5 separate regions of the Homo sapiens genome follow, and all the other regions are linked to region 1. The links come from fine-mapping of genetic effects on gene expression. A gene starts in region 1. Each other region holds a variant in brackets. All regions are shown on one strand. Distances are between the middles of the regions. Region 1 holds the start of SLC4A8 (solute carrier family 4 member 8). Region 2 has its middle 59 kb from the start of SCN8A. Region 3 overlaps GALNT6 (polypeptide N-acetylgalactosaminyltransferase 6). Region 4 has its middle 9.0 kb from the start of GALNT6. Region 5 overlaps GALNT6 (polypeptide N-acetylgalactosaminyltransferase 6).

Region 1 (5,938 bases):
AAGGATGGCCACGTCAGGAAGCCACAAAGAAAGAGTGGAGCCTATGAAAGTTAGAGAAGGATGAAATTCCCAGGCATCCCCATGGGAGACAGTAGGGTGGTGAAGCTCATGCACTGTGGAATCATTTCATCTGAGCTCACAGTCTAGTGTCTCCATCTATTAACTGTGCTGGCTGTGTGCCCTGGGGAAGTTACCTCTCCAAGCCTCAGTTTTCTAATCTATACAATGGGATGATAGTGCCTACCTCAGAGTTGTTGCAAGGATGAAGTGAGGCTATCCATGTAGCATGCCTCTCTGCCTCCCTATTGGTATGATGTGTGTGTGTGTGTGTGCATGTGTTGTCTCTGCCTCTACACATGTATTTTCCATTTTCTTGTCCACTTTATGCCTCTTTCTGGGCTGACTGAAGATTCAAGAAGGCTCTGAATTCTGTTCTGCTGTTTTTTTCTGATTTCTTTAGAAAAATAATCAGTGTGAGGTGATGTCCTTGGCTGAATACCCCCAGCTCCACTAGGACTTGTCTTCCAGCCAGGCTGAGAGCCATGTGTTTGAGCTTTTCCAACCAGGGTAAGGAGCAGTAGATGTTAGGAGCCTCGTGCTTAGAGCCAAGTGAACCAGCTTTTTCTGGGAAGGAGAGACCAAATCATCCCTGGGAGGATAGAGCCTGTCTTCTGCAGTGCCCCAGATAGCAGCAGCCTTAGCTGCTGCCTCTGTGGCCTACTTCCTTTTGTAATTTGCACAATAGGCCAGAAGATGGGGCTCTTGACCCTGGAGTCAAGGGCCAGAGGCTCTGACTTTTTCCACATTTGTACTGGAGAGAAGTCAGATCCACCAGTCCTCCCAGGAATCACCACTACTTCTCAATTCCTTTCCCTACCCTACCTACTCCACTTCTGCCATGGCTGGGACTTGCCTTCCAGGGGAGTGGGGGATGTGGGCACATCTTTCCTTTGGCCACCATCCTCGGCTCCTGAATTACCACGTTGCTAGAGTCAGTCTTTCTGACGCCCTGCCTCAGGTTTCCCCCTCTAATCCATTCTCCCCTAAGGGCAGATTTTGGAGATGGTACAATTTTTATAGGCCAATACAACATAGTGGTCAAGAACTCTAGAATCAGAGAGCTTGTTCTTGACTCGTCTCCTCAGGTGAATCTTTCCCCACCTCCTCAGAGAAGCTCTCCCTATCCCATGCCAGTTACTCTTGATCACATAACTCTTTATTTACTTAACAGTAGTGATTATAACTAGCGGTTATCTTGTTTGATGACTTGTTTACTTTCTCCCACTTGATTGTAAGGCTTATGAGGCCAAGGACACTGTCTTAATTGCTGTTTTCCCAACACCTAACATAGGGCACGATACATAGGTTCTCAGCAAAAGTGTTTTGAATTAATAGATGAATGATGGAATCCCAGCTTCATGACTGCCTGACCTTGAGTAAGTTGCTTAACTTCACTGAGCCTCAGTTTTTTACCTGTGAAATAGAAAAAGAGTAGAGACATTATGACTATTAAATGACACAATGCATTTATACCACTAAACCCAGGTTCTGGTGTGTGGAAGTTTTCCCTAAAGCCTTCAGCGTCCTGCTTTTTATCATTTAAGAAAAATAAAGTCTGAATGAATTAGCCAGATCTCCACAATTTGATCACAGCCTTTTATTTTATTTATTTTTTATTTTTTTGAGACAGGGTCTCACTCTGTCACCTCGGCTGGAGTGGAGTGGTATACTGAAGCCTCTCCTGGGCTCAGGTGATCCTCCCACTTCAGCTTCCTGAGGGGCTGGGACTGCAGGTGCATGCCACCATGCCTGGCTAATTTTTTTGTATTTTAAAAATAGAGATGGAATTTCTACATGTTGGCCCAAGTTGGTCTTGAACTGTTGGGTTCAAGGGATCCATCTGTCTTGGCCTCCCAAAGTGCTGGGATTACAAGTGTGAGCCACCATGCCCAGCCCACAGCCTTTCTCTATCACAACTATTACCTCCCACTGCTCTTCTCAATAACTTTCTGCTTTGGCCCAAATTGTGGCTACCCTGAATGGGCCATGTGCATTATTATTCTTAAGTCTTTGCCTAAGACTTGAGATGCTTGCTCTTCTTACCTTGGGTCAGCTAAATCTTACCCATGTTTTCAGACTTAGCTCGAATCCATGTCCTCTGTGAAACCTTCCTGAAGATCATTTTCTCTTCTGAATTTTTGCAATCTTCATGGTTTATATAATATTACTCATTAACATATACCCTGTTTCCCTGATAAGCCTGTTAAGCTCCCTTGGAGATATATATTTTAGATTTCTCTGCCTCTACAGTGTTACTTGGGCCTGTTCATTAGTAGGTGTTCAATACATTTTTTATTAGATTGAATTAAAAGCATTCATATTTACTAAGTACTTTCTATGTGCCTGGGATTGGTTGAGGCTCTGTTGAGTATACAGAAGGGCATAAGAAAAATAATCATTGCTTTCAAAGAACTTATAATATTTTAGTAAGCTAAAGTCAACATATAAAGTACTTAAATAACCACAGCATGACAACTGCTATAAGAAAGGTATGAAGTGCCTTGAGAATTCTGGGGAGGGTGAGATGACATCTGTTAGGGGTATCAGGGACAGTAGAATAAAGAAAGGCTTCTTGGAAGAGGGTGGCTTTTGAGATTAACTTTGAAGGATGGTTAAGATTTTGATGGACAAAAATGGGGATGAGGGTAGGATGTGAATTCCAGATTCAAGATGACAGGATTAGTAAAGAGATTGATGGAGTGTGTGGCAATGAACACTAAAACGCAGAGACTAGACAGGAGGCTTATACAGGACATCAGAAATACAATTCTGCTTCAGGGATACTGAAGCCCAACCTTGTTTCCAATTTCAGGACCAACACAAAGGATGGTAAGCAGGGGTGGAAAGTTTTAACATGTATCAGACTACCTTCCCCAACTGTAGCTTCTTTAGGGGCTGAGAATTATTTGCAACAATTCTTCCCCTGACCCCAATTTGGACCTACCTGAAGTCTGGTATGATAGTGCATATAAAACAAAAGGCCCCACGGCCGGGTGCCATGGCTCACGCCTGTAATCCCAGCACCTTGGGTGGCTGAGGCGGGCAGATCACCTGAGGTCAGGAGTTCCAGACCAGCCTGGCCAACATGGTGAAACCCCGTCTCTACTACAAATACAAAAAAATCAGCCGGGCGTGGTGGTGGGGACCTGTAATCCCAGCTACTCAGGAGGCTGAGGCAGGAGAATCGCTTGAACTGGATAGGCGGAGGTTGCAGTGATCCAAGAACACGCCATTGCACTCCAGCCTGGGCAACAAGAGTGAAACTTCGTCTCCAAAAAAAAAAAAAAAACAAAAAAAACAACAAAAAAAAAACAAAAAAAACCCAAAAGGTACCTTTCTTTTTCTTGAGGAGAGAGGGTTGCTTCGATTTTAGCCAGCCTCTCTTTTCTTATAAATCCAAATCAAATTTAATGCATTATTCATGATATTCTAACCTTGTGTTAAGTCAGTAGTTCTGTTGCTAAATAATAGTTTGCCTTAGATCATTTCCTGGAAAAGTTCGAAGCCTTTTTGTGGAATTGCTTCAACAGTCATCCTTAGCTCGACCCTGTCCGTGTGTTTTGCTTCTGACTTGAGACTCAAGAAGAAGACCTAAGTCATAGTGAGACTGTGAGGGAGCCTGACACTGCCTGCCTTCTTCAATTTAATGCTCTTTAATCTGGCCATTAGCTCAAGGAAAAACAATTAATTTTAGAAGGCCCTCTCCCCTCATCCGCAATTACCTCCTCCTGCAATCGCGAAGGATGTTTGCCCGGAATTTAAACATCATCTCCCAAGGAATGAAATCAGAATAGGCAAAACCGACACTTTCCCAGTTTTCAAGGGTCAGGTGCAGCTGCAAATAGAAGCAGAGATTTTCTAGCAAGCAGTTGGAAGGACCTTCACGCCCAGAGGCCCCTGAAGGGAGGGAGGCGGTTTCCAAGGCAACCGGGCCCGGGAGCGGTTGGCTCCCCGGCTCCTCCCCCTCCCCGCGGTAGCCCAGGGTACCGCCGGACAGCGTCCTCCCGTGCTCCGCGCCCTGATTGGCTGCGCAGGCCTCTCGCTGATTGGTTGCGGCGGATGCCTCGCGGGCCGGTGGCTATGGAGGCGGCGGCGGTTGATGGTTGACCGTTGGCTCCGGGGTGGGGGTCGCCGTTCGAGTGATCTGCTCAGACCCGACCAGAGGGCGCGGGCTGCTGATGCTTGGCTTGGAGCCCGTGGGGGAGACCTAGTTCGGCTCCGCCATGCCGGCCGCCGGGAGTAACGAGCCGGACGGCGTCCTCAGCTATCAGGTAGGGCCCCGCCTCCCGCGCCTCCCGCTCCTCCCCGGGGCGCAGCCTCCTCATCCTCTGCCCACCCTCCTTCCTTCTGCCCCCGAGCCCAGGCTTCCCAGGCCGCTCCCTGAGGGCGAGGGGAGGCCAGCCCGGGACACCAGGGGGCGCTCCGGGCGGTTGGGGACCAGGCCAGGGCTGCGAGAGAGTGACCTTGGGCCGAACCTGGGATCTGGCCCATCTCTGCCGCATCCCTTGCGCCGCCCGCCCAGGAGCCCTGACAGCCGGCGGGCGGCGACCTCTTGTTCTCCTCGCGTCTTTCTGTTGGAAGGGGCCGGCGTCTGGCCTCGCGTTGTCCTGCCAGAACGTGGGCAGAAAGGGTAGCAGGGACCTTGCTCTGGTGGGGCACGTCTTCTCTTTGTGTTTTTATTTCTGGGGGTTTCTGGTTCCTCAGTGGTTCAGAGGAAAAGCCAGAAAAGACTCTGGAGGCTGGGACCAATCCCTGATAGGGTGACCCGGTTTGTGACTCCCTCTGCCCCATTGAACAGACACCTGAAAACTTCTGGGTAGGGACTGCAAACTGGGCTGAGGATGTGTGGAGGGGTCAGGAACAGGTGCTTATTTAAGGGAATTAAAAAACCAAGGTTAAGTAACTGGTATTGGAACTGTTGGGGCGGCTAATGTAAGGAAAAGCATTGGACTAAGTGTTAGAGTCTGTAGTTTGAAATCCTACCTCTGCCTCACACAAACTTTGTGACCTTGAGTAAGTCACTTGCCTCTTTGAACCTCAGTTTCCCCAGCTATTAAAATGGGAATAGTTATGTCTGCTTTGCATGCTTCACAGGGTTGTTTTGAGGATCAGACGAAGTGCTGTTTGTGAAAGGGCTTTGTGGAGTAATGTTTATTGTGTGACACTCAGTGAATGAGTGGCAGCCCATTGAATTCTCACTCCCCGTTTCCTGTGCAATCAGATGGTGTGGTTTCTGCCTTGGAAAGAGGGTTGGAAGAGGAGGCAAGTCTGAAGTACAGGGCTCTGAAGAGGGTAATGGGCCATCTCAGGAAGGATGACACGTCTTGGAAACAAGTGCCATGTTGACCTCAGGGATGGTTTCCCCGAGGAGGCAGGGAAAATATCCTGAGTTTGCAACAAAATGAGTATCAGACACTGACTCTCTCCTCTTCTTCCTGGTTAATAGTTTGCTACAATTAATAGAAGATACATCCTTCTTTCCTTGCTCTGTCTGAAAAGAACAATATCTAAGATTTTGGAAAATGCATATCTAACCCCCTTAAAGCCTATTAAATGTATTCAATCTCTGTTTGGGATACAATGGTAAGAAAAAATAGGCAATGTTCTTGCCCTCCTGGAGCGTATCATTTAGTGGGGGAGGGGAGAAGTACTATTTTTAATCAAATATCACACAAATAAATATCATAAACTGTGATAAATGCTTTGAAGAAAGATAGGCAGTGCCATAAGCGTGTATAACAGTGGTTCCAGACATGGTCTCAGAGAAGATTTTGCTAAGGAAGAAAATCTGGGCAAAGAGCTAAAGGATGAATAAATGTTAACTGAGGGAAGAGGGGGATCACAGGGCCTGAGAGGCAAAGAGAACAGCTACACAAAA
Region 2 (5,938 bases), 110 kb after region 1:
GGCAGGGGTTTGGCATGGTGGTGAGCTAATATCTGCAGAATGCTGGGAATGGCATCCGGCACATAGTAGGTGCCATGTAAGTATTTGATACATAAATATGGATAGAGCATTAAGGTTTTTCCTGGCTGCCCTTTATCTTGGAAGGCAGCCTTGCTCCAAGCAAATCTCCAGTGCCTCAGACAAGCCACAGGAATCTCCCAGGATCTGCTTGCTGAAGGTTCAAAGGGCAGAGCTAATGACAGGGAAGAGGCTTTCTCTCCCGCACCTTCATCATCTTCACTCCACAGTCATCTCTTCTTCCTGCTTGCCCTCAGAGTGGGTTGTTATCTCCAAGGAATCCTTCATATGCCAAAGTCCAAGAACTGACCTGTAACTAGACTAGACTAAACTTCCTGAGACACGGACCATGTCTGCCATGTCCATTTTTGCATTCCCCATAAAGCACCATATCTAGCACACAGTACGTGCTCATTAACCCTGTGAAATGAATATATGACCCAACCCTGAGGTAAGTTAGCCTGCAAGTATAACTTAATTAGGCACAATAATATCTGGGGAGAAGTCAGACCAATACCAACCACATAGATTAATTACAGAACAGTCTCAGTTGGGGCCATGTTGAGAATCTGCTTACTGGTGTCTGCGCAGGAAAGGGTTAACGCAGCAGGTATGGGTTGCTCAAACCTTGCACATTCCAAAGAAAGGACTGGGCCCTTGACTGGCTCCTGGGAGGTGACCTTTGAGCCCTTGGAAGATCCTGCCTGGTTGACTTTTTTTCTATGCCCCAGGCCTTAGGCCACACTATCAGTCTGACCAGTTTGTGCTAATAAAGTGATTTATGGTGAATGTCTGGTTTTGTATGCCTAAGGCCCTGCCTGGGCTGTGCACCAACAGTTTGACCTCTCAGTAGCGTGGGGAACTAGAGACTGAGTGGCTAAAATAAGTCATGTGGGTACTGCCACCACATAAAACCCCTGGACAACAAGGCTCATCCCTGGTTGGTAATATTTTGCACGTGTTGTCATGCATAGTTTTTGGGGGAATTAACTGCATTCCCGTCAGGCCCACTGGGAGAGGACACCTAGAAGGTTGAGCCTGATTGCCTGATTTCTCCTGGACATCGCCACCTACTTTGTCCCTTTGCTGATGTTCATCTGTATCCTTTCCCTGTAATGAACCATAACTGTGAGTATATCAGCTTTTCGGAGTCCTGTGAGTCCTGCCAGTAAGTCATTGAATCTGAGGGGGGTCTCAGGGCACAGATAATGCAATGTCTGTTATCAAAGAAGTTTAGAAGTGGATAATTTGTAATGATCTTTGTCTTCAGTTACTCTGATGCCTCTCCACACAATTACTTCATTCATTCATGCAACACGTGTTTTTGAACACCAACCATGTGTGGATACTGCATTCCAGGCACTGGGACATAGCAGTCAGCCAGACAAAGATCCCTGCCCTCATGGAGCTCATGTTCTAATGGGGGAAGGTGAGAGACTAAGCGATACACATAATGAAAAAGGTGATAATGCTATGGTAGGAAGAAGTAGAATAGGTACAGGGGATCAGGAGCACTGGGACGGGGGTGGGGCTCCTTGAGAAGGTGAGATGTGGCTTGACAAAGGTGAAAGTGTGCCATGGGGGTTCCTGAAAGTTCTCTGGAGGACTCATTTGCCCCTTGAGTGCTTGGGCCATGGCTCTCATTCTTTAATGAGCACCAGAATTACTTAGGAAGTTTGTGAAAGAGGCTGATTTCCAGACCCCTTTTGTGTGTGTGCGGTGGGATGGGGGCTGGCGGGGAAGTTAAGATTATAAAACGCACTTGCCGTGAGCCTGATGCTGGAGGTCCAGGAACTGCACTTAGAGACCCACTCCATCAGGCAGGCCTGGGCAAGGAATGAGAAACAGCCCTTGCTCTCGGAGAGCTCCCACTTGAGTGGTAACAGAAGGGAGAGCTGGGTAAAACACAGTGCCTGTCAGAGCATCTCTCTGCCATTAATGCATCCATGGGGAACGTCAATGCCCGAACTGACAATTAGCTGAGGGTGGAGAACTCTGAAGGGATGCATTTTGAGGAGCTGGGGTAGAAGGGATTAGGGGACAGAGGTGAGGACTCCTGCAATAAAAATACAGGTTCCCCAGAGCAAGACCAGAGGTGCTGAGAGACCAGAAATGATCTCTTCTGAAAAGACAAGAGGGCTTGGAATCTTCCTGGGTTTCCCCAGTGGTAGTTCTGTCTGCAAGACAAAGTCTTTGGTCATGGGGAGACTGGATAAATAGAAGGGGCCTTGGAGAGAGTAGCAAAGGCGGTCGGAGCCGCACCCAGCTGTCCTCAGATCCCCTTTCCAGCTGTGTATGTTCACTGTCGATGGCTCCTATCAACACCTGTCTTCAGACGATAAAGCACGGGCTCCTGGGGCTAAGTCACCCAGATGCACCAAGAACTGGAAGGGGCTGCCAGTTGACGTCCCCCTGGGGCAGCCGTGGTCAGCCATTGA[T/C]GGGTGCAGCAGTACAAAGCCCTGTTCCTTTGCCCTGAGGGAGGGCAAACTCTGTGCTGCAAGGCACGCCCCTGGAGCTCCCTCAGGCATCAGGCTGAGGCTGGGACTTCACCCCAAATCAGACACTTGCCTGGCATTTACTCTTTCCCTATTCTACTGTCCCCACTTCCTTATAATATTTTCTTGGGAATATTTCCTTAGTAAACCACTTGAGCATGAATTATTGTCTCATCTGACCATAGACAGAGAAATACTTTAAGCACCAAAGCAACCCATACCTCGGCTCCCAGTTCCTTAGGGAGAGTGGGGAATAAACTCCCATGGCAACCCAGAAAGGCAGTCCTCTCCCCTTCCCCAGGCTGGACTGCCCAAACCTGCCCGGCCTGACTGCTCTAGAAAGGGCACCTTAGTGTCCATGGAGAGGTGGCACCAGGGCAGGTGGCACCAGGTTTCAGTTACCGCCCCTTCTTAGTAAACCCAGAAAGCCGTCTAGACAGTTCTGGGCATGCAAAGCCCCACTCAAGACTGGGCTGAAGAATCGGACTCTCCTTCCCGTCTTTGCTATGCCTGCCCTCTGCTGGAGGAACTCATGAACGGCAGCTGGTTAGAAGGGAAGGAGTGAGCCAGAAGCACCAGGGCTCCAAACCCCACCCATCCTTTAGGGTCCAACTCAAATGTCGCTTCCTCCAGGTAACCTCCTCTGATTCCCGCAGCTGAAAGCAAGCTCTCTGCTGTAAGCCCCCACGCCCTTCCTCTACGCGTCCCTAATGGTGCCGTCTACCTTATGTCCTGGTTATGCATTACATGTTACCTCCTCAGCTCATCTGTGAGCTCCCAGGGGAAGAGGATTTTTTTTGTTGCTGGAATTTACTCCCAAAGGATTTTGCACCTCCCTAGAAATATCTCCCACAACTAAGCCCTAAATTCACATCATTAAAGAGAGCCTTTTGAATTCAAGTGTTGTATCTCTAAAAAGGCCCAATTAAAATGTAACTATGAAAAGACATAACCAAGTTGCCTGGACTGTGAGTCATTAAACATTTAGGACATTAGCAAATTAATAGAGCTCAGAGTGCGGAGAGCCGAGGTGTTATCAGAAATGTTTTGGGTGCCAAAGAAAGATGAGAAAAGGAAGAAGGGTAAAGAAAAAAAGAGGAAAAAGTTGAGCATGAGGAACTTCTGAAGAGAGTTGACTGGATAAAGCTGGGGAGGGGCTGGGGGGTTGGAGGGAGGCAGGAGGGTAATAAAGTCCCATTTACCCTGGGGTAGAGATTCCAGAAGAACAGGTGGGGGACACATATCAATAGTGCCATTTTATCTTGTGGACCCAAAAAGAAGTTACTGGGTCCAAATGCCAAAAAAAAAAAAAAAAAGCCCAGTAAAACAAAATTTATAAATGCTTAATTAGACATCAGTAAAACATAACATTGTCAATTTCATTAATTGTTAAATTTAGTATTTATAAATATTTATTCCATTTGAAAAGAATTTTGTGGGTTAGATTTTTTTCACTTCTTAAGAATTCCTGGGTAGAGATGGTGACTCCTGAGTAATCGTAGCCAATAATAAATTAAATATTACTCATCGCCAAATAATTTCCAAAGCAAAATTATAAAATTCCTTTCAAACTTACAGGGCAGGGTCAGGCACGGTGGATAATCCCAGCACACTTTTGGGAGGCCAGGGCGTAGTGGGTCACTTGAGCTCAGGAATTCAAGACCAGCCTGGGCAACATGGTGGGACCTTCTCTACTCAGCCTCCTGAGTAGCTGTAGTCCCATCTACTCAGGAGGCTGAGGTGGGAGGATCGCTTGAGCCCAGGAGGTAGAGGCTGCAGTGAGCCGTGTTGGTGCCACTGCACTCCAGCCTGGGTGACAGAGCAAGACCCTATCTCAAAAAAAAAAAAAAAAATTATAGGGCAAATTATATTTAACATAGGATATGAGTGTGTTTTAATATATTTGCTATAATAAAACTAGGAGTCTCTGGGGCTTACAAAGTTCTTAAAATGGCCTTTAATATCAAAGATCAATTTCCTCCATCTGCTTCACAACAGTTTCACCCTAGATGATATCAGAGTCCTCACCTTTCATAAGCAGACAAAGCACCCAGAGACAAACTGCTTTCTTTTCTTCAACACAATTTGAATTTACCTTCTTGTCCACCTGCATGGGCAAATTAGTTGGTGATTAAATGCTTAGAATAGCTAACTATAAAGTTTTTCTGCTCTCAAGGAACTTTCCAGAGGGAAACAATGTTATCATTTCTTCTGTATATTTTCTGTGCATTTTATGTATTTCCAATCAAAAACTAAATACATATTCTCCAACTTCTCCTTTTAAACAAACATTAATATTCTGTGTATGTTGCTCACATTGCTATATTCCTCTTTTTTTCTACTTAACAATTGAATCCCCCTTGTAGAGCCCATAATTATTAGGAAATTAACAGTAACTCTCCCTCCACAATGGTCGAAAGGGGGAGTAAAGTACAGCCTTTAAGAGGTAGGAGCAATTTGCATCCAGAAAACACTGAGCTACTGAATGTAGTCAAAGAGAGCCCCTAAGTCATTTTATGCAGAAATAATTTAGACACTGGCAGAGCATGTCAAAGTCAGGGATATGGACTGGGTGAGCTTGTAGAAACCTGATGGCCAAGAGTGACAATTCTTCAGTGCAAGAGAAATGGTGCTGGGGAAAACCAGAGCCTTGTCTTTCTCCTCCCCTTCCTCCTCTTCCTCTTCCTCCTCTCCCACTTTTCTTTCCTCGCTTATTCTTGCTGGAAAAAAAAAAAAAGGTTGCCAAGAAGGCTGCAGGAATAGCCAAACGCAAGCAAAGAGAGGCTGATTATTCCATAAAAGCTGCACACACACTGGTGGCGGGGCGGGGGCGGGGGGGGATGGTGCAGGCAGCAGAGAACAGAGCTGTCATGCAAGCAGCCAGGGAAGCCGGGGCTGTCCATCCTTAGGAGGGAAAAGGAAGGAAGTCCCAGGTTTAGTCAAGTCATGTTTTCTTGACTTGTATTTAGAAACTTGGAGAATTCTACAGTGAAGTGATATTTATTTCGTGGCTGCTGTGCACCAGGCAGTAGGACACAGCAGGGAGCCAAACAGATAACAGTCCTGGTTTCATGCCGCTGACTTTCTAGACAGGGAAAAGCCAGTAAGCGAACACATGGCACATGTATGTGACATAAGAGCAGGCTGTGATCAGTGCCACAAAGACACAGAAAGAGGGTAAGGGGACGGAGAATGATGGGGTTATATGTGAGGTGTGTGCCTTTAGCCAGGGTAGGCAGGGGAGGCCTTTCGGAAGGGGTGGTGTCTGGGCGGAGACACAAATAAAGATTCCATCTCTGGGTAAAGTGGGTCCCAGCACGGAAGCCCTGGGTCTTGGCAGTGTGCGGGGGCTTGGTGGAGATGAGGCCACGTGGGGCAGAGTCCCA
Region 3 (5,938 bases), 50 kb before region 1:
GGCTGGTTGTGGTGACTCACGCATGTAATCCTAGCACTTTGGGAGGCTGGGAGTTCCAGACCAGCCTGGTCAACATGGTGAGACCCCATCTTATTAAAAAAGGGAAAAAAAAAAGTTCCGGAGATGGTTGCACAATAATGTGAATGCATTTAAAATCAATAAACTGTGGACTGAAACCGTGAAGATGATACGTTTTATGTCGTGCCTTTTACTACATACACACATGAAAAATCCAAACACTGTCGGTGGCTTACGGAGGTCTCACAATTTGGTCCCGCTAGCCTTTTAAAAAATTATTATTATTATTATTATTATTATTATTATTATTATTATTATTTGAGATGGAGTTTTGCTCTTGTCGCCCAGGCTGGAGTGCAATGGTGTGATCTCAGCTCACTGCAACCTCCGCCTCCGGGGTTCAAGCAATTCTTCTGCCTCAGCCTCCTGAGTAGCTGGGATTACAGGTGCCCACCACCATGCCTGGCTAATTTTTGTATTTTTAGTAGAGACGGGGTTTCTCCATGTTGGCCAGGCTGGTCCCAAACTCCTGACCTCAAGGGTTCTCTTGCCTCGGCCTCTCAAAGTGCTGGAATTAACAGGCATGAGCCATGGGCCCGGCTCCTTACACCCACTCCACCAGCACTCTTTCTGCTCCCTGGCTTACTTTGTTTAAGCCACACTGTCTTCTTTCTGCCTCATTAACAAGTCAAGCCTCAGGCCTCTGTGTTGGCTGCTCCCTTTGCAGGGAGTACTAAGAGTAGTCTTTCCTGGCTACTCCGGTGAAAAGAGCTCCCTAATTACTCACTCACTAACCCATTGCCCTGCATTCTTCTTTTTTTTCCCTCTAATTTAGTTAAGCTGGTGGAGTGTGCCAGACAGGGAGGGAACCCTGGCTGCTGACCTAGCCACTCAGGAATGAGGTCTGTGCCCTGGTTCTGACTCAGAGGTGGGGAAGAAAAAGCTCCCCAGCTCAGCACGCGGTCTCCTCCCCCATGGTATCAAATGCCCTTAGACTCACTCTCATAGGGCTACTACTGGGTGCCTGGAGTGGAGGTCAGAGAGCAGGGACATTGTATTTCGGCAGAGACACAGTCCTGTTTGTGTGTGTGTGTAATGAGAGCTGGTTAATCTGATCAAACAGTCAAACGTGTGGGAAATTTTATCCCACTGTGGACGGCAGAGATTTCTGACCATGGATCTGAGGGTTTTTTCCTCCTTTCCTCACTGAACTGAATGTTGCTTAAAGTATCTCTAGCGTCTGAAAGCCCTCTGGGTAGGGTTGTTTATCATAGGGTCCACAAATTCCCTGGAATTAAATGCAAAAATGTGGGTTTTGCATATTATTGTGGGCAGTGGTGCACTATTCTAGGGATTTTAACAGATTCTGAAAGGATGCCAGGACCCAGAAAAATAAGAATGACTAGCTTAGGTTTTTCAGGCAGGTGATTGTTTTGTTTTTGTTTTTGACACAGGGTGTCGCTCTGTCACCCATGCTGAATACAGTGGCATGATCAGGGCTCACTGCAACCTTGACCTCCTGAGTTCAGGTGACCCTCCCACCTCAGCCTCTCGAGTAGCTGGGACTACAGGCACATACCACCATGCCCAGCTAATTTTTTATTTTTTTGTAAAGACAGAGTCTTACTATGTTGCCCAGGATGGTCTTGAACTCCTGGGCTCAAGTGATTTTCCCACCTCAGCCTCCCAAAGTGCTGGGATTACAGGTGTGAGCCAGTGCGTCCTGACCATGCAGATGATTTAGAGATGCTGGAATTGGCCTTTGGAGAGAATTGGCTTTAGAAGAGAGTCCAGGGCAACAAGTCCAGGACAGACAGAGAGAAGGTGAACGTGTATATGGTGGCCTGCTAGGGGCGGGTGCTCTGGAGGGGATACTGGGGCTACTGCCAACTCTGCCCTACTGAACACAGGCTACTCTGCCTGTTAGATGCTGCCTATGCCAGCCTGGCATTATGTCACTTGTCTAGCTAGTCAGAGGAGTTGCCTACCTGGGCACTTGCAGCTCACAGAGTCACAAAGTTTAGGGTGAAAAGTTAACAGTTTAGAACCCCCACGTCCAAGGCTACGGGAGCCCACCTCTTGCATCAGCGTGACCTGGATGTGAGACACGAAGTCAAAGGAAATCACTTTGGAACTTTAAGGCTTAATGAATGCCCTGTTGGATTTTCGATTTGCATGGGGCCTGTAGCCCCTCTGTTTTGGCTAATTTCTCCCATTTCAAATGGTTGTATTTACGCAATGCCTATACCTCCATTGTATCTAGGAAGTGACTTAACTTGCTTTTGATTTTACAGGCTCATAGGGGAAGGGACTTGCCTTGTCTCAGATGGGAGTTTGGACTTGGACTTTTGGGTTAATGCTGGAATTAGCTAAGACTTTGGGGGGACTGTTGGAAAGGCATGATTGTGTTTTGAAATGTGAGGACATGAGATTTGGGAGGGGTTAGTGGTGAAATGATATGGTTTGGCTGTTTCCTCACCCAAATCTCATCTTGAGTCGTAGGTCCCATAATCCCCACATGTGATGGAAGGGACCCAGTGGGAGATAATTGAATCATGGGGCAGTTTCCACCATGCTATCCTTGTGATAGTAAGTTCTCACGAAATCTGATGGTTTTATGAG[G/A]GGCTTCCCCTTTTGCTCGGCTCTCATTCTTCTCTCTCCTGACACCTCATGAGGAAGGACATGTTTGCTTCCCCTTCTGCCATGATTATAGGTTTCCTGAGGTCTCCCCAGCCCTGCAGAACTGTGAGTTAATTAAACCTCTCTCCTTTATAAATGAGAATGGACTAATACACTCCAGTACAAGAGATTCAGGTGAAAGAGCTTCCGAAGGATGGGTAGCATAGGGTTAGGAGGAGAAAGATAACGAAAGAACCCAGTTTGAGAGGAAGGACCGCTAATATGCTTGCTTCCATTCCATACAACCTTTCCATTGCTACAAAGATTCCCTAGAGATCACTGCCAAGCTCCTCCCATCTCTGCCAAACTCTTCACCCTTCCCTTTCCAGAAGCCTAATCTATACATTCCTTGTCCACCAGACCCTGTCATTGCATCCCTGATACTTGCTTGCCTTGATTTATTTATTATTTTTTTTTAGAGACTGGGTCTCACTCTATTGCCTAGGCTGGAGTACAATGGTGCAGTCAAGGCTCACTGCAGTCTCAGCCTGCTGGGCTCAAGCAATCCTTCCACCTCAGCCCTCCAAGTAGCTGGAACCACAGGCACATGCCACCGTGCCCAGCTAACTTTTCTATTTTTTATAGAGATGGGGTCTTGTGACATTGCCCAGGCTGGTCTTGAACTCCTGGCCTCAAGCAATCCTCCTGCCACAGCCTCCCAAAGTTCTGGGATTACAGGCATGAGCTACTGTGCTTGGCCTATTTTACTTTATTTGTATCTTTTTTAGAGACAAGGTCTCACTCTGCCATCCATGCTGGAGTGCAATGGTGCAATCACAGCTCACTGCAGCCTCAATTTCCTGGGCTCAAGTGATCCTCCCACCTCAGCCTCCCAAGTAGCTGGGACCACAGGCAAATACCACCATGCCTGCTAATTTTTTATTTTTGTAGAGATGGGATTTTGATATGTTGCCCAGGCTGGTCTGGCCTTGCTTTATAAGTGCTGCCAAGTATCTGTCTTCCCTGGGAAGATGTGAGCTTCCTGAAGAAATGAACTCAACAGGGCTCACACTCAGCCCTTCCTTCCACAGCCCTAGTCCTCTTTTCAGCATCACCCCTAACCTAGAGGAAGGAGGGAGGCTGGGGGAGGACAAGGACAGGAAGCAGCTCTACTGGAGTGGCCCCAGCGCTTACACTGGGAAGTGTGGAGTCAGTTCCTGCCCTCACTATTGGGAGTTTGAGCACAGGAGGTCAATCTGGGAGAGCCCCAGACACCACATGCCTCCTACGAGGAGGGCTAAGCTTGTGGAGACTCTCAGCCTAAAGGTGTCTCAGTCCCACAGCCTTTCCTAGTTCAGGCCCCATCATCTCCTACTCTCAAGTGAGTGTAAGAACTTCCTCTCCAGACTGTGAGTCCTCTGCCTCTCTTCCTGCCGATTATCCTCCTCCAAAGCTGCCATCCTTCTGAAATGAAGTCACAGTACAGATGAAACACTTTCAACGACTCCTTCTTACTTTCTAAATAAATGCTTTTAGCATGACATGAATGTCAATTCAACATTTTTTTTTTTGAGACAGGGTCATGCTCTGGCTCAGCCTCCCGAGTAGCTGGGACTACAGGCACATGCCGTCATGCCAGGCTAATTTTTGTAATTTTTATAGAAAAAAGGTCTTGACATGTTGCCCAGGCTGTCTTGAACTCCTGGGCTCAAGTGATCCACCCGCCTCGGCCTCCCTAAGTGCTGGGATTACAGGGGTGAGCCACTGTCCCTGGCCAATTTAACATCTTTTAAGTCTCATTTCCTAAACAAACCTAAGCTTCAGCCACACCAGATCTCTTTAACAAACACATTCATGTCTTTAGGACTGTGCTTATGCCATTCTCTTGTGGGAATGCCCTTCATCCACTCTTCTCTCTTAGACACTCATCCTTTAAGGCCCAGCTCCAATCTGGCTTCCACTGCAGACCAGCCCTAGCCACGCCAGGCAGAAATGGCACCTCCTGGCTACATACTCCATGGTGCATTGTTCTCGTACCATGAATAAAATGGAATGCATGCTTGTGACACTCTTACTTGATGCCAGCCACTCTGTGGCACATGAATCTCATTTATGACCTATCTCATATCCCTCACCCACCATGTAAGGGACTCAACTGCTCTTTTTTTTTTTTTTTGAGATGGAGTCTCACTCTGTAGCCCAGGCTGGAGTGCAGTAACATGATCTCGGCTCACTGCAACCTCCGCCTCCTGGGTTCAAGCGATTCTCCTGCCTCAGCCTCCCGAGTAGTTGGGACTACAGGCATGCTCTGCCACGCCTGGCTAATTTTTGTATTTTTAGTAGATACGGGGTTTCACCATATTGGCCGGGCTGTCTCGAACTCCTGACCTTAAGCAATCTGCCTGCCTCGGCCTCCCAGAGTGCTAGGATTACAGGCGTGAGCCACCACGCCCAGTCCTTTTTTTTGTTTTGTTTTTTTGAGAAGGAGTCTCACTCTGTCTCTCAGGCAGAAAAGCAGTGGTGCCATCTTGGCTCACTGCAGCCTACGCCTCCCGGGTTCAGGTGATTCTTGTGCCTCAGCCTCCCGAGCAGCTGGGACTACAAGCGCGCACCACCACACCTGGCTAATTATTTTTTGTATTTTGGGTAGAGATGGGGTTTCACCATGTTGGCCAGGCTGGTCTCAAACTCCTGACCTCAAGTGATCTGTCCGCTTCAGCCTCCCAAAGTGCTGAAATTACAGGCTTGAGCCACTGTGCCCGGTCTGCCCCCATTTTTTGAAGAGGAAACAGGTTCAGGGAGGCCAAATGCTTGTCCAAGGTCACAGAGCTAGGAAGGGTCAGAGCTGGGATTTGAATTCCTAGGTGTTGGACTCTGCAGTCCATGCCCTTTCACACCTGTTACAGGTGCATCACTGCCACAGCACTGTGGCTAGTGTTGTAAGAGGCTTCTGGCCGGGCACGGTGGCTCATGCCTGTAATCCCAGCACTTTGGGAGGCTGGAGCAGGCAGATTACCTGAGTTCGGGAGTTCGAGACCAACCTGACCAACATGGAGAAACCCCATCTCTATTAAAAATACAAAATTAGCTGGGTGTGGTGGCACATGCCTGTAATCCCAGCTACTAGGGAGGCTGAGGCAGGAGAATCGCTTGAACCTGGGAGGCGGAGGTTGTGGTGAGCTGAGATCACACCATTGTACTCCAGCCTGGGCAACAAGAGCGAAACTCCATCTCAAAAAAAAAAAAAAAAAAAAGGCTTCTGACCTATGGGGGTTTTTAGTATTTTCAGGGCAGGGTCTGT
Region 4 (5,938 bases), 23 kb before region 1:
ACATAAAGAGAACAGAGAGGAGAATAAGAGACAGGGAGAAGGGTTGAAAGAGTCAGGTGGGATGGGGAATATATTATTTTTCCTAATGATCCAAATATCACATTTTCAATGTGCAAAATTTCAGATGCACAGAAAATCACAAAAAAAGAAGACAAGTTATCCATAATTATGTTACCTAGAGATAACCAATGTTGCTATTTTGGTATGATATAGTCTGCTCTTTTTCTATGCATATATGATTTATATGTACATATAAATTTCATCAATTCTAAGGTGCATTTTTAAAAATCTTTAACATATCTGAAATTGGTATGTATCTTAAATTGATGGTGTTATAACTTAGCAGTGTTGGATAATGCCTGTAATCCTAGCACTTTGGGAGGCTAAGACGGGAGGATTGCTTGTGTCCAGGAGTTTGAGACCAGCCTGGGCAACATAGTGAGACCCCTGTCTCTATAAAAAGTACAAAAATTAGCCAGGCATGGTTGTGTGTGCCTATAGTCCCAGCTACTCGGGAGGAGGCTGAGGTGAGACCCAGGAGGTCTCAAACTCCTGAGCTCAAGTGATCCACCCACCTCAGCCTCCCAAAGTGCTAGGATTAAATCCGTGAGCCACTGCGTTCTGCTCGAGTATCCTTATTTTTACAAGTGAGAATTTTATAAGCACAGCAGTTCCCTGTAACTGCAGTCTGAGCCCTTAGCCACTACTTTTTGCAAGTCTGTCTCTCCATTTATTCAAGTTTCTAGTTTATGATCCTCAGAAAAGTTTTCTAGTGTTCTCTCTCCTAATCTTTACAGCTCTTGTTAAAATGATTCCTTGGCATTTTATATTACCTATTTTAGGAGACTCTTGATCAGTCTTTCTTTTGTATAACCGAAGCCTCCTAATATCATACAATTAATAAGTGTTCCTCTCTTGGGGTTGTCAAACTGTAACTATGGACTTTCTACTTAAATCACACAAGATCATCTCCTTAAAAGCAATCAAGTGCCCAAGATCTGTCCTTTCACAGTAGAGAAATTTCACAACTGCAATGAATAAAACATCCAAATGCTTGTAAGATTTTGCTGTGAGAGCTTTTTCTGCTCAAAATTATGATTTCTTATTTAATATCTCTCTTTAAAAGAAGAAACATATGCACATTTAACCTTCTGAAATCTTAATTGGATTTCAATCTGACAGTTGTTTTGCCCAAAGAGAGGTAATAAAAGGGGCTATAAACTAACTCCGCAGAGCAAACAATCCTCCAGCTAAAAGCAAAACCTGTTATCTTCCCCTAAAAAAAGAGAAGTTTCTGTTTCTTTCTTTTTTTCTTTTTTTGAGAGAGAGTCTCGCTCTGTCGCGCAGTCTGGAGTGCAGTGGCCTGATCTCGGCTCATTGCAATCTCTGCCTCCCGGGTTCAAGCGATTCTCCTGTCTCAGCCTCTGGAGTAGCTAGGATTACAGGCGTGCGCAACCACGCCCAACTAATTTTTGTATTTTTGTAGAGATGGGGTTTCACCATGTTGGTCAGGCTGGTCTTGAACTCCTGATCTCAGGTGATCCACCTTCCTTGGCCTCCCAAAGTGCTGGGATTACAGGCGTGAGCCACCACACCTGGCTGAAGTTTCTGTTTTCTTAGACATTTGAAAAATCACAAATTTCATTAGGATTGAAGTCTATCTGATATTAATATTACTTTGGATTGTAAGTAAAGGAGAGGTGATAGAATAACTCATTGGTAGATGAGTCCAGATGTTTAATGTCCTCTTAATATCCTAAAATGTTTGCCTCATTGTTTATTAATTCCCGTGGAATCTTATTTACTTATTTTCAATAGGTGATATGTGCATATGGCAAAAAAAATCTAAAGCTCAAAAGTATAGTGAAGAGGGAGTCTCCCTCCTTCTCCCATCTGCAGTCACCTAGTTTTCCTCCCCAAAGGCAGCCACTGTTACTGATTTCTTTTGATTCTTTCTAGAAACATAGTTCAGAGGAGTCACCCTGATTTTGGCAAGTACTTTAAATAGCAGCTTCTTAATTTTTTTTTTATTACATTGCCCATAATGGTTAAAGTTATTTTAAAAGTAGTCCTCTTACTGAGCTCTCTTTGTGGCTCTGATAGATTTCCAGAGGATTCTCTTGATTTTCTAGGTAGACGGACATATCAGCAGCATTCAATTTTGGCAAAGTGAAAACAGTTTTGGAGTGAGACCTGGGTTGAATCCTGACTCTTCCAGCTGTCTGATCTTAAATCTAGCCTTTAAAACATGTTGGGCCAGGCGTGGTGGCTCACGCTTGTAATCCCAGCTCTTTGGAAGGCTGAGGCAGGCAGATCACGAGGTCAGGAGATTGAGATCATCTTGGCCAACATGGTGAAACGCTGTCTCTACTAAAATACAAAAAATTAGCTGGGCATGGTGATGCGTTCCTATAATCCCAGCTACTTGGTAGGCTGAGGCAGGGGAATCGCTTGAACCTGGGAGGTGGAGGTTGCAGTGAGCTGAGATTGCGTGACTGCACTCCAGTCTGGTGACAGAGCAACACTTCGTCTCAAAAAAAAAAAAAAAAAAAACCATGTTGGCACTGTCCAAAGGTAGCACAGAGGTACGAAGTGGTCCCTCCTCCTGGGTGTGGTGGGTGGAGTGGGCAGAGGCCATGCAGACCCAAGCACTGCCCCTTGGCCCTCTCCTGGGTTTGTTCCACCTGGACCTGCAGATAAATCCAGAGGCCTTTGATCTCAAGGATTTCTAACCACCCAGAGATCAGGAGGAAAGACTGCAAAGGAAGCCCTAAAGTAGAATAACCTTTTCTTTCTCCATGAATGGAATGTAAGTTATGTTTGCTGAGGGCAGATTAAAATAGATTTTATTGTTTGAAATCAGGAATTTACAGAAACTCTTTGAAGAGCTACTATCATCGAAGACCTTTAAATCCCCCACTGTGGTAGTGGGCAAAATAGTCACGTACAATTGTAATGTGTATAGATGTGTATAGGTTTTCTCAGAGTTGGGACCCACTGCCAGGCAGGGAGTTGGTGGTATTTGATGCTGTTGTTTGGGGAGGAGTGGTACTAAGAAAAAAAACCATGGTTAGTGAGGAAAAAACAAAAAACACAAAACACACTCTCAGTTGCCCATAGAGTTATATCAGTTTGATGGGAT[ACC/A]CTAGAACACCTCAGGGGTCTGTGAATCCTTTAACCACTCAATGGAAAAGGTGACTGGGGTATAGATTGTCTAGTTTGTTTATATGACATAACTTTTTTCCAACGGTACTTGAGAGGAGTGTGAATGAACTCCTTTATATATATATATATATATATATATATATATATATATATATATATATATATACATACATACACACACACACACACATATATAAACATATATGTTTATATACGTATATAAACATATATGTTTATATACGTATATAAACATATATATGTATATACATATATATATATTTTTAAACAGGGTCTCACTCTGTTGCCCAGGCTGGAGTGCAGTGGCACCGTCACGGTGAAACGGGAAAGGTTCCCTTGTCCCCCTCACAGGGAGTGCAACAAGGGGAGTGGCTCGCTTCTTTAGGGCCCGGCTGCTGAAATCTCTATGGAACATACAGATGGGCAGGTTGTGGGGTTCAGATCCCACGGCAGCGTCTACCTTTGGACAGTGCCAACATGTTTTTCTTTTGTTTGTTTGAGACGGAGCGTTCCTCTGTCGCCAGTTAGTGTTTACAGCTCCTAGCCCCAGTGGGCGTGTGCTACCGTGTGCTCTTTTAATTTTGCCGTCTGTAGGCGGCTGTGCTAACCAGCTGGATTAGACCCTCTGCCTTATCGCGAGGTTTTCTGTATCCCGGGTTCTTGCCTTGGTGTACCGGAAAAATCAGATCATATGTGGGCTTGGAGAATGAGTGCAAGGTTTTATTGATTTTAAGTAGCTCTCAGTAGATAGGGGAGCCAGAAGGGAGATGGAGTGGAAAGGTGGTTTTCCCCTGAGTTGGGCCGCTCAGCAGCTGGGCTCTCCTCTGACTGCCCCAGGCAAACTCTATGTCTTTCCGTGGGCCGATGGCGTGCCAGCGTGCTGGCATCTGCCACTGCATGTTGGTATGCTCTTCCACCAGTGTATTCCTCTCGATGTCCAGCTGCCTGTGCGTTCCTCTACTGATCTGTTCCTCTTGACGTCCAGCCGCTTGTGTCTCTGCCCGCTCGGGTCTCGGGGTTTTTATAGGCACAGGATAGGACTGTGGTGGGCCACGGTGGTCTTGGGAAATGCAACGTTTGGGCATGAAAACAGAAATGCCTGTCCTCACCTAGGTCCCTGGGCACAGGCCTGGGGGTGCAGCCCTAGCCAGGGACCACCCCCTTCCCTTCCCAGCACTTCCCTGCCCCACTCCCATATCAACTCTTCAATGCAGCCTCAGCCTCCCCAGGCTCAAGCAATCCTCCCACCTCAGCCCCCTGAGTAGCTGGGAGTACAGACATGTGCAACCACACCCAGCTAATTTTTCTATTTTTTTTTGTAGAGATGGGATCTCCCTATGTTGCCCAGGCTGGTCTCAAACATCTGAGCTTAAGTGATCCTCCTCCTTCAGCCTCCCAAAGTGCTGGAATTACAGGCATGAGCCACAGTGTCTGGCCCCTTCGTATCTTAACCACCAGGAGAAACAGACCTGAAGTGATGCCTTGATATATGTGTGTTATGCAAGACTAGAGTAAGATTTGACAGGCATATATGGTTACAACAGGGGGTGAGCTCAGACTTTGAAAAGATATTGGCTTCACTCCCTAATCATCAAGACTTGGAATATCCTGGGATTCAGCTGTTGTTGAAGGGAAACCATTCCAGGTTTGCCAAACAATTGAGTGACTTAAGGGGTGCAAAGCTAGAATGCTTCAAGAATAGAGGGAGAAGAAGCCCTGCTGTGCTGATGGGCTCTCTATGGTGTTATCCTGTCCTGGCATTTGCTACCCCGATAAACTCACAGGTGCTAAATTTAAAGGCTAAAGTGAGGCCTGGCACAGTAGCTCACGCCTGTAATCTCAACACTTTGGGAGGCTAAGGTGCGTGGATCACCTGAGGTCGGGAGTTTGGGACCAGCCTGGCCAACATGGTGAAACCCCGTCCCTACTAAAAATGCAAAAATTACCTGGGTGTAGTGGCGTGTACCTGTAATCCCAGCTACCTGGGAGACTGAGGCAGGAGAATCTTTTGAACCTGGGAGGTGGAGGTTGCAGTGAGCCGAGACCGCGCCATTGCACTCCAACCTGGGGTACAAGAGTGAAACTCCATCTCAAAAAATAAAAAATGAAAGCTAAAGTGGTCAGGGTAGTTGACTCCTAGGCATTTATTTGTCCCTTTGCAATTAATCTAAGCACCATATGGTGATTCCACTCTCCTTGCCAGTGATGGGCAAAGACGGGTGTCTTCTGGGGGTGCTTGTCACTTATCCTGTTCTTCACAGCGTTATCCCATGGCCAGATGCTATGGGAGAGGCATGTCTCAGTATGGGACTGGGGGTCCCTGATAGAATCCCCCCCAGTGAAAGGAGAGACTCTGAGAATGACTGCATGAAGTCCCCCAGTTAGCTGGCAGTTCTGTAGTCATGGGTAAGTTGTTTAGCCTGTTTTCATTTTTTTTTAAAGGACAATTATATAGAGTCTGTTGTGAAATTTAGATTAGGTAATAGGTATAAACTGCTCAGAACAGTGCTCAGAACATAATAAATGCTCTATGTTCAACAAGAACAACAGCAACAAACTCAGAAGCACTCCTCGCTACCGCCGGGGAGACCCAGGATACCTAAACTTTACTGAGTTGGGGCCACTCAAGCCTGAACAGAAGGATCAGTGGAGCCAACATGTGAGTTTCTTGATATGTGCCTGTTACTCCACCAGAAAGCGTTACTTACTCATTTCCAGAGTTTGGGCAGGAGCCATGACAGCCTGTTGATGAGCT
Region 5 (5,938 bases), 62 kb before region 1:
ATCTCGGCTCACTGCAACCTTCCCCTCCTGGGTTCAAGCGATTCACCTGCCTCAGCCTCCTGAGTAGCTGGGACTACAGTCGCGCACCACCACGCCCAATTAATTTTTGTATTTTTAGTAGAGATGAGGTTTCACCATGTTGGCCAGGCTGGTCTCAAACCCCTCACCTTAGGTGATCTGCCCGCCTCGGCCTCCCTAAGTGCTGGGATTACAGGCGTGAGCCACCACACCCAGCCAGTTCCACCAGTCTTTGACCTTCCTGTCTGGGCTGAAGTAGTGCAGATAGCATGGAGCGCCTGGGGCTACTGTCTCTCATGTTCATTCCCACTCAGGACCTGTTAAAGATACTGGCCCAGCCCTCACATCCAATCCCAAAAACCCCGCCTTAGCTTTGGAGTCCCCTGCTTATCGGTCCATCTCCTGTGACTCCCCAGACAATTATGTCCCACTCCCCAGTGCCGAGGCTCTCAGAGCCATTCCTCCAAAGCCTCCAAAGCCTCCGTAAGAGGCTTTTCCTCCAAATCTCCTTTCCCTCCCTTCCCCTCCAAAGGGATGCAGAGACTCTATGCGTAGGGACAACATTCTCTAGCTTTTGAAACCTATGTGCCTTGTGGCCTTCTCCTGGGCTCTAGCTCACAGGTCCCTGAGGGTGAAGGGAGGCGCCAGATGGTAGAGATGAGGTGGGTCCCAGCCATTAGGCCCATGAACAGGGTCTGGGGGCCGTACTTCTCTTCATCTAAACCTCTCCGAGAACCATTTCCTCTCACCTCTTGGGCCATCTTTGCTGCCTGCAGATTTCTCCTATAGAAAATCTTCTTGTAGCTGTCCATCCAGACCTCTGCCAGGCGCACTTGATTGCGAGCAATGACACTAGTGCCCTTGGGGAAGGTGTGGGGGCTCTTGGTCCGGAACACATGGCCTACGACAGAGCAGGGGATGATCTCCAGCTGGCCCCCACACTGCCACACCTGATGTAAGAGGAGACAGGATGAGGCCTTCAGTGGGCTAGGTGAGACAGTCTCCCCATAAGCAGCTCTATTCTATTCCCAGAGCACCAGACCCCAGGTCCAAGGACTTGGGCAAATGCTGCTCTCTCTCCCTGGGAAAAAGGATACCGACCAGGCTTCTTCCTAGGCCATGACTACACGATCCCAGGCTTTCTGATGTTGGTTCACTCTGACTTAAGCACAGGGAGACTGCAGGGTCCTGTGTTTACCAGGGCCCACTTTAGGGAAAAGCCTGCTGGTTAATTTTTGTTACCTGTGCCTGTATACCTACTCTGAGCTCTGATCACTTGGCTTTTTGACCTGGAAATGTGAGTTTATCAGCTCCCTCAGGTGATAAAAACCAGAGCATCAGTCTGTTAATTAATAGCAAGGATAGTTGGCTGCTAGGTGGCTAGTGGTAGTCACTTGGGCCCTTAGCACACTGGCTGCCTAGGAAGGTGAACAGAGGTCAGAGGCTCATGGAGGAGCCTAGGATTGGGCCGCTGGGAGTTGGGGTGACTGGCAGGTGACCCTTTTCTATGCTGGTGGGCTGGCTGAAGACATCCCTCCCACTGGTTTCTTCTTTTGGGTTTTAGGTGGGAAAGTATGTTGTTATTCATTTTAGTGTGGCAGCAACAGAAATACATAATCGTTATAGTAACAGCAGGCATCAATTACGTGCTTAATATGCATCAGGCACCGTGAGAGGTGACTTCATAAATGAGCTCATCTACTTACTAATTACTTTTCCATGGCATGGAGATTTGTGTAGGTTTCATGGAGAGGCAATCCTTGCTTCCTGACCTAATCCTGATTTGCCTAATTCCTGGAATCTCTCAGAGTTCTGGGGTCCACCAGAGTTGGGGCCACCATCTTCTCTGACTGTTATGAAGGGCTTATTGTACATAGGTAGGGAAACTTCAAAGGTTACCAGGGCATGTGTCCTTTGAACTGGGAAGGGGAGCCTGATTTTTCCAGAAAAAGGATGATGACTGGTTACTCATCTGTTTTTTTTTTCTAGCCCTAGTTGTGAACATACTAACCTGTTTCTATCTTCACCCTAACCCTTTCCCACAGACATCGCAAAAGAGTCCCCAGTCACCAGATGTCCAGTCCTCATTACCCCTATTATTCCTTGCCTCTGAGAAGTTGTGCCCAGTAGTTTGTTTTGAGCTGTCCAGGCTGACTGCCCAAGCCCTACTGCCATGGACAGGGGGAGCAGAAAAGAGGAAGAGACACACTGGGAAATAGCCACCCTTTCTAGTTCAGTTCCAGATGGGATGTCCCTGATGCCACCTCTGCCTGAGAGATGTTTCTCAAGCTGTCGCCTGGGATGTTGTGGTTCCCCCCAAAGCCCTCTTCACTCTCACCCGGAAGGACATTTCCACGTTCTCCCCTCCCCAGATCTCCATCTGATTATCATAGGTACCGATGTGCTCAAAGTAGGACTTGGAGATGGAGAAGAGGCCACCAGCAAACGTCGGGGATCTGGAG[A/G]GACAGAGGGAGAAGTGTGTGCATCTTCTGGGAGAGGAGGAGCGGAGCCTGGCGGGGAAAGCTGTTTGTGGACTCCCCTCCTAACCCACCTCCCCCTCCTTTCCTCTTTCTCAGGACGTGCAGCCCCTCATCCACTAACTCACTCATCATTTAGCTTTTACTATGTCCTCTTCCCCTTCTAGGACCAGGTCAAGGAAATATGTAATTATCCTCTAAAAGGCACTCATTCATTCGTTCAACCTAGGATGCACGTAACACTGGCCACCAGGGCCCGTGCTACATGATGGACACACAGAACGGAGAAAGACAGATCCTATTCCCCCAGAGCTCAATCTAGTCACAGAGGTTAAAGCTACCATTAGTTACTTTTTGGCAGCAAAGTGCCTGGAGCCTAGGAGATACTCAACTTTCAGAAGCTGTGTGAAATTGTTTTTGAAAATAGGCAGGATTCAAACCATGAATAAATGAATGAATGAATATTGTCAGCTGGGCTGACTCCATTCTGTTTCAGGGCCCCTGCCCCTCAGGGACTATTAAGCCACAGTTTTAGTAGGCGCCTAGCCCTGGTGATTTACACTGCATGAGAAACTGTAGATTTGGGGAGAAGTTGCCAGTTGCTTTTAACAGAGAAAGCTGATAAAAGGTGCTCCTGGAAACAGTGGAAGGTCAGGTGAGATCAAGCTCAATTTGGGCTACAGGGAACATTTAGAAGGTTATAAAAAGATTCTGGCTTTCAGACACAGGCAGGGAGGTGTGGACTCAAGATAAGATAAATTGACAAAAACATCTAATTCCTAGAATTTAGATACCAGGTTGCTTCGAAGAGGGACTGGGCTAAGCGTTAGGGTATCGAAGCGGACCCGGGGAAGTATAAGCAAGATGGAATGCTGGGGTGGGGGCCGGTGAGACATGGCAGGAGCACAATCATCAGCTGCTGGTTTCTGTTTGGGCCAGCCTGGCATGGCTAGGGCTTTGCTGCCCTCAGTGGGCAGCTTCATGTGGTACAACCAAGCAGAAAGATACAGAACCCCTGTAACCCCAGAACCTATCTAGGTGCCTTACACACAGCTGGGGCCCAATCACTGTTCATTCGCATGATCCATCAAGGTGCCTACCCAGGAATGTGACCCTGGTGTTACCCTGTGGTTGCTCTTGTCTACCTGAAGTTGGCTCCTGCAGCCACTTTCTGGAAGGAATTTCAGTCGTGCTCAGGCTGGCTTCCTATCACTTTGGAAGAGGCTCTGGCCTCTCCCAGGGGTCTTAAACCGGCACAAGTAGCACCCTGAGAGGCTCAGAGAGTGCTGGAACTGCAGAGGAGCACTTGGAAGCCAACCTGCTTCCTCCCCCACAGGCCCTGAGTCTTGTCTTTGAGAAGTCTCCCAGACCGAGAAGTCACTGATGGATTAGCCATGAGGACAAACCCTGCATGGGAAGCTTCACTGTAAATTCACAACCACAGGCAACCTCTAGTAAACACCCTTTATGTCCTGGCCTACCCCTAGAATCCCCCAGGTCCTCTGCCTCTCCTCTTAGGCTCTGGTTGGCTTGAGATGGGAGGCCGGGAGGGGACTGTCAGCAGTCCTCCTGGGGTGGGGGCGCTACATGAAGAGCCTCGGCAAGCCATGCATGCTACCGGGGCATGTGGGCCAAGGAGCACATTCATTCCTCAAACACTGGAGCTTTGTCTTCCAGTTGTATGGCCCTTGGACATTGAAGCCTGCGACGTCAGTGATGGGTGGGGGCCAGGTGCCCTCTTTCTGACTGTGCTGCTGTGTGCCTGGTCACTGGCATGGGGGTGGGGGTGGGGATCTGTTGCAGTGCACACCAAACAAAAGGCAGCTATGAAACAAACATTGGGTCAGTGGAAAGTTCCAATTTCTTTTCTCTCTTTTGCCTTTTCCTTTCCCTCTCTCCTTCTAATGGAGACAGAGCAGCTGGCTGTTCAGGATCTGTGGGATTTCTCCCTGTGGCATTCACCTGAGTTCCTTTCTACTGGGACTCTGAGCAGGTTTTTTTTTTTTTCTTTTTCTTTTTTAAGAGATGGGGTCTTGCTATGCTGCCCAGGCTGTTGTTAAACTCCTGAGCTCAAGCAATCCACCTAATCCACCTCAGCCTCTCATCTAGCTGGGATTACAGGTGTGGGCCACTGTGCCTGGCATGGACAGCATTTTTTAGGATTCTGGGCACGTGGAGAGGAAGAAGCACCAATCCTTTCCTCCTTTCAAACCTTCCCTCTTATCTCTGGCTACTGTATCTCCAACCTCTGCATCCCTCCGTCCTGGATGTATATTCAGTTGAGCCTTAAGTATACTGGCCAGTCTAAGATAACAATGACACAAATAATCCCAAACCACAGGCTACACTAAAAGTCACTCCTCAACTTGGTTTGTCTGAGACAACTGTTAAAATAAACTTACAGTCTCCAATAACACCAACAGGCTGCCTGGAGAGGGGAGGATGGGGTGAGTATAAGAGGGAAAGGTGAGCCCAGTGGGCATTAAACTGTGGGTTGACTTCCAATTGTCTACCCTGCAGCTCAGGGGCTGGCACACAAGAGCCTGTGGGCAAAATCTGGCTGCCTGGTTTTAGAAGCCTCTGGGGCAAAAAATTATTTTTACATTTTTTAATGTTTGTAAAAAAAATAAAAAATAAATAAGATGAAGAATATGCAGCAAACTATATGTGGCTGGCAAAGCCCAAAATATTTATCATCTGGCCCTTCACCAAAGAAGTTCAGGGCAACTGCTACAAACTTCACGCTGCAGAAAATGTGTCTGTTTTCTTTTAGTATATTCTCAGTCTTTTCAAAGACAGTCACCTGGGGGCACATACCACTCCCTCTTATTACAGTGACTATTCCACAATGGCCTCCATCACATCTCTTGCCCCATCTGCAAGCATGGGCCACTCCTTTTATGTGTAGGGAGGAATAAACTAAAGAATGTATAGCCCTTAGTTCAGTGCCTGGCACATGGTAAGTGGTGAATAAGAGCAAACTGTCATGGTGAATAAGAGCAGTGCCACGGTTAGGGCCAGACAGTCCGGGAAGTGTGTCCTTGCTCCACTGTTGCTAGCTGCATGATCTTAGGTCAGTGTTTATCACTATGAGCCTTAGTATTCTTAGTATTGTACCTGCTTCATAGGGAGTGAGGATTAATCACAATATGTCAAGTGCTTGATAGAGCACCTAACAAATGTTGATGTGAGATGGCACAGGTTCCTGGAACTGGGTAGGACTGGGGCCAGGTTGGGGGCTCACCAGGCTGCGGTCCTTACTTGATGGGGTAGGTTTCATCCTTGCGCCTCTGCTTCTCATGTGGAGGAAGTGTTTCCCAGCCGAAGGTCAGGCTCCAGTCAAAGTTGCCTCGGCTATGGACTCTGCCCCTCTGGACGGGCTTGGCGAACTCAAAAGTATTAAGGTCGATGGTGACGATGTCTGGGCTCACCACCACTGTCTT

The links. PIP is the estimated chance that this variant, and not a neighbour inherited with it, causes the effect.
Region 2: its variant is fine-mapped to the expression of SLC4A8 in whole blood (TOPMed, PIP above 0.99).
Region 3: its variant is fine-mapped to the expression of SLC4A8 in whole blood (INTERVAL, PIP above 0.99).
Region 4: its variant is fine-mapped to the expression of SLC4A8 in whole blood (TOPMed, PIP above 0.99).
Region 5: its variant is fine-mapped to the expression of SLC4A8 in spinal cord (GTEx, PIP 0.91).

Annotation. Positions count from the first base shown.
Region 1 is chr12:51,420,705-51,426,642 of GRCh38, forward strand. It overlaps SLC4A8 (solute carrier family 4 member 8), which reads left to right and starts at 4,127. Exons shown (of 25, transcript NM_001039960.3): 1 at 4,127-4,331. The coding sequence starts at 4,284. It overlaps SLC4A8-AS1 (SLC4A8 antisense RNA 1), which reads right to left and starts at 4,624. Exons shown (of 3, transcript XR_001749147.2): 1 at 4,536-4,624; 2 at 3,783-3,895; 3 at 1,195-1,473. RefSeq lists silencers at 3,886-4,095, 4,366-4,575 and an enhancer at 4,686-4,745.
Region 2 is chr12:51,529,026-51,534,963 of GRCh38, forward strand. No RefSeq gene overlaps it. Among named protein-coding and RNA genes, the nearest start is that of SCN8A, 59 kb to the right of the region's middle. RefSeq lists an enhancer at 3,177-3,236. The variant T/C (reference allele first, on the strand shown) is at 2,496.
Region 3 is chr12:51,370,763-51,376,700 of GRCh38, forward strand. All of the region lies in intron 4 of GALNT6 (polypeptide N-acetylgalactosaminyltransferase 6), which reads right to left. Among named protein-coding and RNA genes, the nearest start is that of GALNT6, 18 kb to the right of the region's middle. RefSeq lists an enhancer at 552-1,118. The variant G/A (reference allele first, on the strand shown) is at 2,641.
Region 4 is chr12:51,397,448-51,403,385 of GRCh38, forward strand. It overlaps a transcript of SLC4A8 not described here. Among named protein-coding and RNA genes, the nearest start is that of GALNT6, 9.0 kb to the left of the region's middle. The variant ACC/A (reference allele first, on the strand shown) is at 3,143.
Region 5 is chr12:51,358,365-51,364,302 of GRCh38, forward strand. GALNT6 (polypeptide N-acetylgalactosaminyltransferase 6) reads right to left here. Exons shown (of 12, transcript NM_007210.4): 6 at 5,757-5,938; 7 at 2,357-2,474; 8 at 768-968. Among named protein-coding and RNA genes, the nearest start is that of CELA1, 15 kb to the left of the region's middle. The variant A/G (reference allele first, on the strand shown) is at 2,481.